Linked DNA regions of Homo sapiens: region 2 is linked to region 1. Evidence: fine-mapped expression QTL. A gene starts in region 1. The other region holds a variant in brackets. All regions are shown on one strand. Distances are between the middles of the regions.

Region 1 (4,376 bases):
CCGAAGTCGCCAAATATGGCCGCGCCACCGCCCCCCGCCGCGTACCTGGGCCACACCTTGACCCCTGCCGCGTGACGCGGCCGCGGAGGAGGAAGTCGCTCTCCACCCCCGGCCCGCGGCGGCGTCCCCTCCCCGCCCCTCCCCGCGGCTCAGGCCCTGCGGGTGGCGGGGAACCCGGGGGTCTCGAGGCGCCAGCCTCGCCCCCGCCCCCACGACCCTGGCGGCCTCGGGTCCGCAACGTGGGGAAGAAAGGTGGGGGACGGGGACGCGCGCCCGGGGCCGGCACCTCCCCGCACTTCCTAGACAAAGAAGCTTCGGAGGAGACCAGAGACCCGGAGGGGCAGGGTCCCCGGCCGGCCCGGAGCAGAACGTAGTGTGGGGTGAACGCAGGATGGAGGGGCTTGTGGCTATTCCCCACCCGCCTCGTGTCCCTCGGTGTGTGACGTCGCATCTTGGGACCCCCCAAGTGGAAGTCCTCACCCGGGGGTCGAGCAGGCTGTGTGGTTCTGCCCAGGGACGCGAGTCCGGGTGGGTCTGTTGGAGGCCCAGCCCCGGCTTCGCCACGGGAGGGAACATACCTGACAGCCTTGCCCGGGCCCCCGGAGATTCTGGGCCTGGGGGCGCTCAGCACCCCTGGGAGGCCTGGGGCACGGGGGCCTTAGGCACGGGTCTCGGCGTCCGGGCTGACTGCAGCCCGCAGGTGAGCTGGGCCGGCCGCCTTGCCCTGACTCGCTGTTGTCACTCCCAAACACGGGGTCGCGAGCTAACGTTGCAGGGCCCCGGACTCCGCGTGGGGACCCCGGCCCCGCCCCCCAGCCTGTCGAGTCAATCTGAACGCTCTGCGACCTCGGGCGAGTCCGTCCCCTCACTGCGCGGCCTCACTGCCACCCCTACGCGGCCGGCGCTCCAACCCTGAAAATTCCAGCAGCGCACAAGGAAACCGTAGTGCCGGGCGCCTCTCGGGGTGTAACCAAAGCACCGGCGCCGCTCCTGGCGAGGAGTGAGCGCCCTGGACAAGCCTGTGGCTAAACCCACGCCAGCCCTGATCGCTGCTCTTAACTAGCATCGTAAACAGAAGAGGGTATCCCCCCGACCGCCCGAAGCTGGGGAGCCGACCTTCAAAAAAGTCAGGGCTCCCATTGTCTACCTCAGTTTCCCTATAATGTCTACAGGTGACCAGAATGAAACAAAGGCCTCACTCCACACCACCTTCTCAGCACATAAGGGGGCGGGGTAGCCCCAACCCGGAGCGCGCGCCTGGGGACAATCAGGCCTGTGATTTGAGGGGCAGGGATGTGTCGGGTCGGGTAGAAAGGGGCCTCGGTCTTCAAACGAACGGAGATCCGGGGCAGGGCGCCCCGTGGAGGGACCTGCATGGTGGTGGCTGCGCTTGGGGACGGGCGGGCTGTTTCCTATGGTGACCGGGGCGAGGTGAGGGCTCCTGAGAGCTCCCCCGCGCCCAGGGACGCAGAGCGTCGCGGACCCCCGCCGCGCCCCTTCCTCAGCCCGGCACTGGCGCCCGAGATCCTCGTGGAGCCCGAGGGGAAAGATTGCAAGGGACGTCCCAGGGAGCAAAGCCCCGCAGCGTGGCCGGGGACTCGGGGACCCACCCCAGCTCCGGCGCGGCCCCGCCCCGGGTCAGGCAGTTTCGGGGCGCAGCAGGGCCCTCCCCACGGCGCGGCAGTCCCGGGGAGGGGCCAGGCCCGTCAGCCCTTCGGCCCTCCCGGCGACCCTCGGAGGGCGCCCCAACTCAGACCCGCCCGCCGGCCCGCGCAGGGTCGCGAGCGCGCGGGGGTGGCGCGGGCGGGGCCGTTGGGAGGCGGTGCGGGCTGGGGGCGGGGCGGGCCGGGGCCCCACGTGTCCCTGCCCGGCGGGCCAATGGGTGCCCGGCTTTCGGAAAGATCGCCATATATGGACATGTTCTGGGGCCGCGCGCGCCGCCGGGCCGCGCGGGCGCGCCGCTTCCGCTTAAATAACGGCGGGGGAGGCCGCGGTCGGTCTCAGTCGCCGCTGCCAGCTCTCGCACTCTGTTCTTCCGCCGCTCCGCCGTCGCGTTTCTCTGCCGGTGAGCGCCCCGCCCCGGGGCCTGAGCTGGACGTCGCAGGCCTGCGCCCCCCGACCCCGGCTGGCCCCGCTTCCAGCTGCCGAGGCCTCGTCGCGCCTTCCCCGGGAACAAAAGGCGGGGTGGGCCGGGTCAGGCGGACGGGGCTGGGGGGGCGCCGGGGGTCCAGGGCGGGGCCCGGCCGCAGTGCAGACTTCCGAGCCGTGGACGTTACGTAAAAGGCCCGGCCTTCGGTTCCAGGCGGTTGCGATCTTGGAGGCCACGGCCGCTGGGGTTGGGGCAGGGCCGAGGCTTCCCCGCGGGAGGGCATTAGGTGGCTGTGGGGAGGGGACCGTGTTACAGACGCGCCCGCCTGAGTCCATCCTTTTCCGGGCAGGTCGCAATGGAAGAAGAGATCGCCGCGCTGGTCATTGACAATGGCTCCGGCATGTGCAAAGCTGGTTTTGCTGGGGACGACGCTCCCCGAGCCGTGTTTCCTTCCATCGTCGGGCGCCCCAGACACCAGGTGAGTGGATGGCGCCGCGGGGCTCCTGGGTTCTGCGTTGCGGGGTGGGTTCGGTGTCGCCGGCGAGGCTGACGGGTCGTCCCCTGCAGGGCGTCATGGTGGGCATGGGCCAGAAGGACTCCTACGTGGGCGACGAGGCCCAGAGCAAGCGTGGCATCCTGACCCTGAAGTACCCCATTGAGCATGGCATCGTCACCAACTGGGACGACATGGAGAAGATCTGGCACCACACCTTCTACAACGAGCTGCGCGTGGCCCCGGAGGAGCACCCAGTGCTGCTGACCGAGGCCCCCCTGAACCCCAAGGCCAACAGAGAGAAGATGACTCAGGTGAGGCTCGGCCGACGCCCGTGCTCCTCCCGTCCTTTCCCCAGTCATTTTCTGCCCGGCTTGATTTCTGACATTTAAGTGTTTCTTTCGCTGTTCCAGGCTCTGTTCCTCTCCCGGCATTTCCTCCCTGAAGCCTCCAGGTTTCTCATTTGGTTTCTGCCTGCGTTCTTTTCTTTTCTCCACACATCACACTGGCATGCAGCATGTTGTGGCGTGTGAGCATGGGGTGGCCGTGGGTCTCTGTCCCTGACTAAGCCGCCCCTTGTCCCTTCTCAGATTATGTTTGAGACCTTCAACACCCCGGCCATGTACGTGGCCATCCAGGCCGTGCTGTCCCTCTACGCCTCTGGGCGCACCACTGGCATTGTCATGGACTCTGGAGACGGGGTCACCCACACGGTGCCCATCTACGAGGGCTACGCCCTCCCCCACGCCATCCTGCGTCTGGACCTGGCTGGCCGGGACCTGACCGACTACCTCATGAAGATCCTCACTGAGCGAGGCTACAGCTTCACCACCACGGCCGAGCGGGAAATCGTGCGCGACATCAAGGAGAAGCTGTGCTACGTCGCCCTGGACTTCGAGCAGGAGATGGCCACCGCCGCATCCTCCTCTTCTCTGGAGAAGAGCTACGAGCTGCCCGATGGCCAGGTCATCACCATTGGCAATGAGCGGTTCCGGTGTCCGGAGGCGCTGTTCCAGCCTTCCTTCCTGGGTAGGTGTTGTGAGCTAAAGGTTTCTACTCTTACATCCTCGGTGACACAGCATCACTAAGGGAGGGCTCTGTCCCCTAGGTATGGAATCTTGCGGCATCCACGAGACCACCTTCAACTCCATCATGAAGTGTGACGTGGACATCCGCAAAGACCTGTACGCCAACACGGTGCTGTCGGGCGGCACCACCATGTACCCGGGCATTGCCGACAGGATGCAGAAGGAGATCACCGCCCTGGCGCCCAGCACCATGAAGATCAAGGTGAGTCGAGGGGTTGGTGGCCCTCTGCCTGGCTCGGGAGAGCTGACTGGGGGGCGCTCTGTGAGCTGAAGCCGTGCCTGGCTGTCTTTGCAGATCATCGCACCCCCAGAGCGCAAGTACTCGGTGTGGATCGGTGGCTCCATCCTGGCCTCACTGTCCACCTTCCAGCAGATGTGGATTAGCAAGCAGGAGTACGACGAGTCGGGCCCCTCCATCGTCCACCGCAAATGCTTCTAAACGGACTCAGCAGATGCGTAGCATTTGCTGCATGGGTTAATTGAGAATAGAAATTTGCCCCTGGCAAATGCACACACCTCATGCTAGCCTCACGAAACTGGAATAAGCCTTCGAAAAGAAATTGTCCTTGAAGCTTGTATCTGATATCAGCACTGGATTGTAGAACTTGTTGCTGATTTTGACCTTGTATTGAAGTTAACTGTTCCCCTTGGTATTTGTTTAATACCCTGTACATATCTTTGAGTTCAACCTTTAGTACGTGTGGCT
Region 2 (4,376 bases), 46 kb after region 1:
GGGGCAGAGAGGTGATGGAGGGGGAGAGTAGGACGGCGGTGTTGCGGGGCCAGAGCCAGGCGTGAGTCCTGCCCTTAGATTCAGCAGTGTGCCCTGCAGGGCTCCTGGGGAGGTCAGACCCTCGAGGTCGGGGGCCCACCTAAGCCTGCCGTCAACCCCACTCGCTAAGCCCGGGTCACCTGCCTCCTGGGCTCACTGGTGGCACCCCCTTCAGCCAGGCCCCCTCCCCTCTGGCCGTTTCCGGCCCTCAGCCCCACCTGGACCCCTAGTCCGGCCCTGTGCCACCCTTAAAGCCTTTCTCTTGGTGCCAGCCCCTCCCCCCAGGTACCTGTGCCGGCCTGGGCCCTCAGGTGTCTAGTTGACCTGGCCCCTCTAACCCTGACCCCCAGGTGCCTGGCTGGCCTGGGACCTTCAACCCTGACTCCCAGGCTGCAGAACCAGTGCCTCAATTTGACTGCAGACTCTGCTTAGAGCCCTTGGGGCACCCATTGTCAGAGAGAGAAGACAGGCTCCATGCTGCTCTCAGGGGCTTGAGATTTGGCCTCTGTCACCCTCTAGCTCTAACATCAATCCCCTACCTCCCCCCGCCCCCATTAACCACCTGCTGGCCACCCCAGCTGTTCCTTGACTACCCTCTGTCTGCCCTGCCCTGCCCTGGGCTTTTCCAAGACAGCCCAGGTGTTACTTCTTCCAGGGAGCCCACCTGGACCACCCCAGGGACAGTCAGTTCTTTGTCTGCTTTGCCAGGTGCGGAAGTCCCCGCTGATCCTGCTGCCACATGCAGCGGGGGGCGGGGAGCCACAGTGCTGCCCCACCAGGCCTGGCTCAGCCCCGATACCACACTTTTGGCTGAGATGGGGGTGGCCGACCTTGGGGTTCCACGGGTGAGGTTATCTCAGCTGCGTGGCCCCGGGTGCAGCTGCTGGGCCCCACTGTTCTGGTCTCTCCCATCTGCCTGTCATGAAGGTGGGGCCGTGGGCCGCTCACTTCCACTGTGGCTCACTGCTTGGTACACTGCTGGCACCAGGCAGTGCTGGGTGAATGGAGGATTTGAACCTGAGACCTGCTGGCAGAGGTTTCCTGTGGGCTTCCCAGGCAGGTGTCACCTCTCCGGCCTGGGCCTCATCCGGCTCTCTTGCCCCAGAGTCCCTGTCGGCTGCCTGTGGCCTCTCCGTGCGACCTGCTCCGTCAGGCAAGCTCCTGGAGTGGGCAGGAGGCGGCAGCAAGTCCTGGCTCAGGGCTCCAGGAACCGGGGCAACAGCCGCAGGCCTTCCTCCCTGTTCCGGGCTGGATTCTGCCCGAAAAAAGTCACTGAGATCACTGAAGTCAGGGTCTCCTGAGCCCACAGGGAGTGTCTGGCCTCACCCGTCTTTCCTTTCTTGCCACAGAGGACCCCTGACCCAGAAACCTGGTCCAGCAGCCCCCTTACTCAGCGCTCGGCCCGGCCAGGGCCTCATCTGCTCCCTGCCCTCACAGCAGCCTGAGGCACGGCCGGTCCCTGAGCACCTCTCTCCGCACTCACCGGCCCAGGAAGGCACTGCTGACTCAGGGACTCCGTCCTCCAAGGACCATGTTTCCTGGCCTTGGACGCAGCTGTGACCAGGCACTCAGGGCCCACTGGGACAGATGTGCACCGACTTCATGCAGCTTCCCAAGATCCCGGCGGCAGAGGGGGAACAAGGAGGGTCCCCTACCCCCTGCAAGCATCCGGCTTCCTCTGGGTCTGCAGCCTCATGAACAGGGCTCTCTCCAGCTGGGGGTGCACTCATCTGTGTTCCCACACCCGGGCCGTGGGCCGCCCCTCCCAGGATGGTCATTCACGTCTGAGACCCTGCCCAGCGTGGCGGCTCGGAGACTGCTCTTGCCCTTCGTCCTCTCCAGTGGAACCTACTCTGGCCCTGGACTGGTTCAGGCTGGACAGGGACTGTGAGAGCAACCAGGAAAGGGGCCCTCCTCCTGGAGGGACCCCACCCCTAAGACCACTCTGAGCCCATTCCGGTCACATGACCCTTTCCTGGCCTGAGGGGCTTCACTTGGGCCAACACAGGGGGCGGTGGGGAGGCCTGGCCCAGAAGCCCCAGCTCTGGGAACGAGAGGCTTCTGCTGAGCCCCCGGAGCCCTGGGGAACCCCCAGGAGTACCGTGGGACACAGGACCCTGGACCACCGAAAACCTGTACAATAGTCCATATATTTATTCTTAAGCAAGTTATCAATAAAAAATTTGATACTAAAATGCCTTTACATAGAGTCTGCTGTTCATAAAACCTTTGTGTGTTTTTTTGTCCATTTTGTTTTTAGTGTTTACATTGAAAAAAAATCCAACCATCCCCTTAGTTTACACATTTACAGGAATCGTGCCTTCGTCA[C/T]GTTAACCACGGTGAGAGGGGAGGGGCCGCACCATTCGCACGCACACAGAAAAAGAAAGGAAAAAACCAGGGACAAAGCGGAACCCAGCAGAAGCGGGACGAGGACGAGGCGGCGGAGCAGAGGATCCAACCTCCGTGGCTGCACCCTCCTCGGCCCTCTCTGGAACTCCAGTGGCTCAGCATGCCCCCGTGCATTTTTCTTCACTTGACATCGTTCTGATCCCCGAGCCTCAAGCAGGACCTCGTCCAACCACCTCCCCAGACAACCACCGGGAATGAAATATTGCACTCATGCGAGACAAAGGGTAGGCTCGGGGGTGGGAGCGGGGGGCTGGAGGCGGGGACCCCCGACCACAACATAAGCCCCCAGCCTTGAGCCTCCTGGGGAGCCTCTGGGAACGGCCCTTCAGGGGGTCCAGCCAGCAGGTGAGAAACAGGCCCCAATGGGCCCGAGAAAAATAGGGGGCCAAGGGGACCTGGGATTGGGGTACAGGGCACCCACCAGCACCCTGCTTCGAGGCCTGTGGTGTGGGGGACACAGAGCTCGTCCTAGAGCAGTGGCTAACTTGGGGGGCTTTCCTGAAGCTCCCGTGGGGCCAGGGGAACCTTAGTGTGGGAGGATATAAGGAGTGTGTGGCCCCCCATGCGTTTCTGAGGCTGAAGGCTGTTGGGCTCAGGTCCAGGCAGCCTGTCTGTCCTTGGCTGTGGGAGAAGGGGAGGGGTGTGAATTCCCTGGGGATACTGGGGCAGAGCCCTCGAGGGGTGCTGCTTGCACCTGGGGCCAGGATTTGGGCTCAGGTGGTCAGGGGGACCCTCATTCTATGCCCCAAGCACTAGCCCATCAGGCCATCTGCCCCACCAAGTGGCACAGAAAAGGCCGAGAAACCTCCAAAGGGGTTGGGGCAGGCAGAGGGGTCCGAGGGCCAGGCAGATTTGGCTGGTGGAAAAGGGGGCCCAGAAAGGGGCCTTCCCCAAGGGCAGGGCCTGCGTTTTATTTTCTTCTCCCCTGGCCACAGCACTGCTGGCCTGGCCTCACCACCATCTACGCAGCAGGCCAGGGGTTTGGGGGCACCAATAAGGTGGGTGGGAAAAGGGGTGTCTTTTGCATGCATTCTGCTTGGGGGTGAGGAGAGAATCTGGTGGGACTGTGAACCTGCCCTCATAGGCCCCGAGCCCTGCCCAGTTCAGGAACCTGGCCAAACTGCCCCTTCTCACGGCACCTACTACTTTCAGGAAAGTTAGGACCCCAGGGGTGAGGAGGGGCTCAGAGCTGGGCCCTGCTTCCCGAGTGTGCCAGGGCGGCGAGGGTGAGGGGGGCGAGGGGCCAGCCCCTCCCTGCTCTGGGTGGAGGCCAGACTCCTTGGCCTCAGACCAACTGGCCCCGGAAACAGAAATCAGATATAGGTTGGAATATGATTCAGCAGATACAATCCAAACATTGCTTTTTCTTATCAATACTTTAAAATATTTGTTCGTCTTTGTCTTGTTTTGAACACAGGTGAGATGCTCACGGCTGTTGTCACACTCCCTGGTCTGGGCTTTGCCTCTTGAATCCTTTCCCCACGGGCCCCTCATCACCACCCCCTGCTCCAACACTTCTTTTCTAGGAGATGCACTGAAAGCAAATAAACTTGACCGACTTTCATCTTACACGGTCGTCCCCCCAAGAGATCAGAGGGTGCCGTCAAGGGTCCCACCTGACCCTCCCGTGGCCTCTGCCCCCTGCCCCGAGATGCCTCTGTCGTCCCAGGTGCCCCCGTTGGAACCCAGCTGGGCTGAGAACAGTGCATTTCCAAAGGAAACCCCAGGACAAAAATCGCCACACACGCGCACACACATACACGCTCACACACACCTTGTCACGCGGATGGGGAAAAACCCTTTTCCACTTTTTACCATAAAATTTCCCCGCAGAAATACAATATTTACATAGAGAAATAAATAGACAACACACCTGATTTCTGCTTTCCCTGGTGGGAGACAGTCGGAGGTACTAGGGAATATGGCTT

What was found. PIP is the estimated chance that this variant, and not a neighbour inherited with it, causes the effect.
Region 2: its variant is the best candidate, but not a certain one, in a credible set for the expression of ACTG1 in whole blood (TOPMed, PIP 0.57).

The regions. Positions count from the first base shown.
Region 1 is chr17:81,510,423-81,514,798 of GRCh38, reverse strand. It overlaps ACTG1 (actin gamma 1), which reads left to right and starts at 2,000. Exons shown (of 6, transcript NM_001614.5): 1 at 2,000-2,065; 2 at 2,439-2,567; 3 at 2,657-2,896; 4 at 3,173-3,611; 5 at 3,691-3,872; 6 at 3,966-4,376. The coding sequence starts at 2,445. The coding sequence ends at 4,109. RefSeq lists silencers at 1-354, 575-764, 1,395-1,874, 2,075-2,244 and enhancers at 895-944, 975-1,254, 2,465-2,554.
Region 2 is chr17:81,464,126-81,468,501 of GRCh38, reverse strand. BAHCC1 (BAH domain and coiled-coil containing 1) reads right to left here. Exons shown (of 28, transcript NM_001377448.1): 28 at 2,171-4,376. Among named protein-coding and RNA genes, the nearest start is that of MIR3186, 15 kb to the right of the region's middle. The variant C/T (reference allele first, on the strand shown) is at 2,368.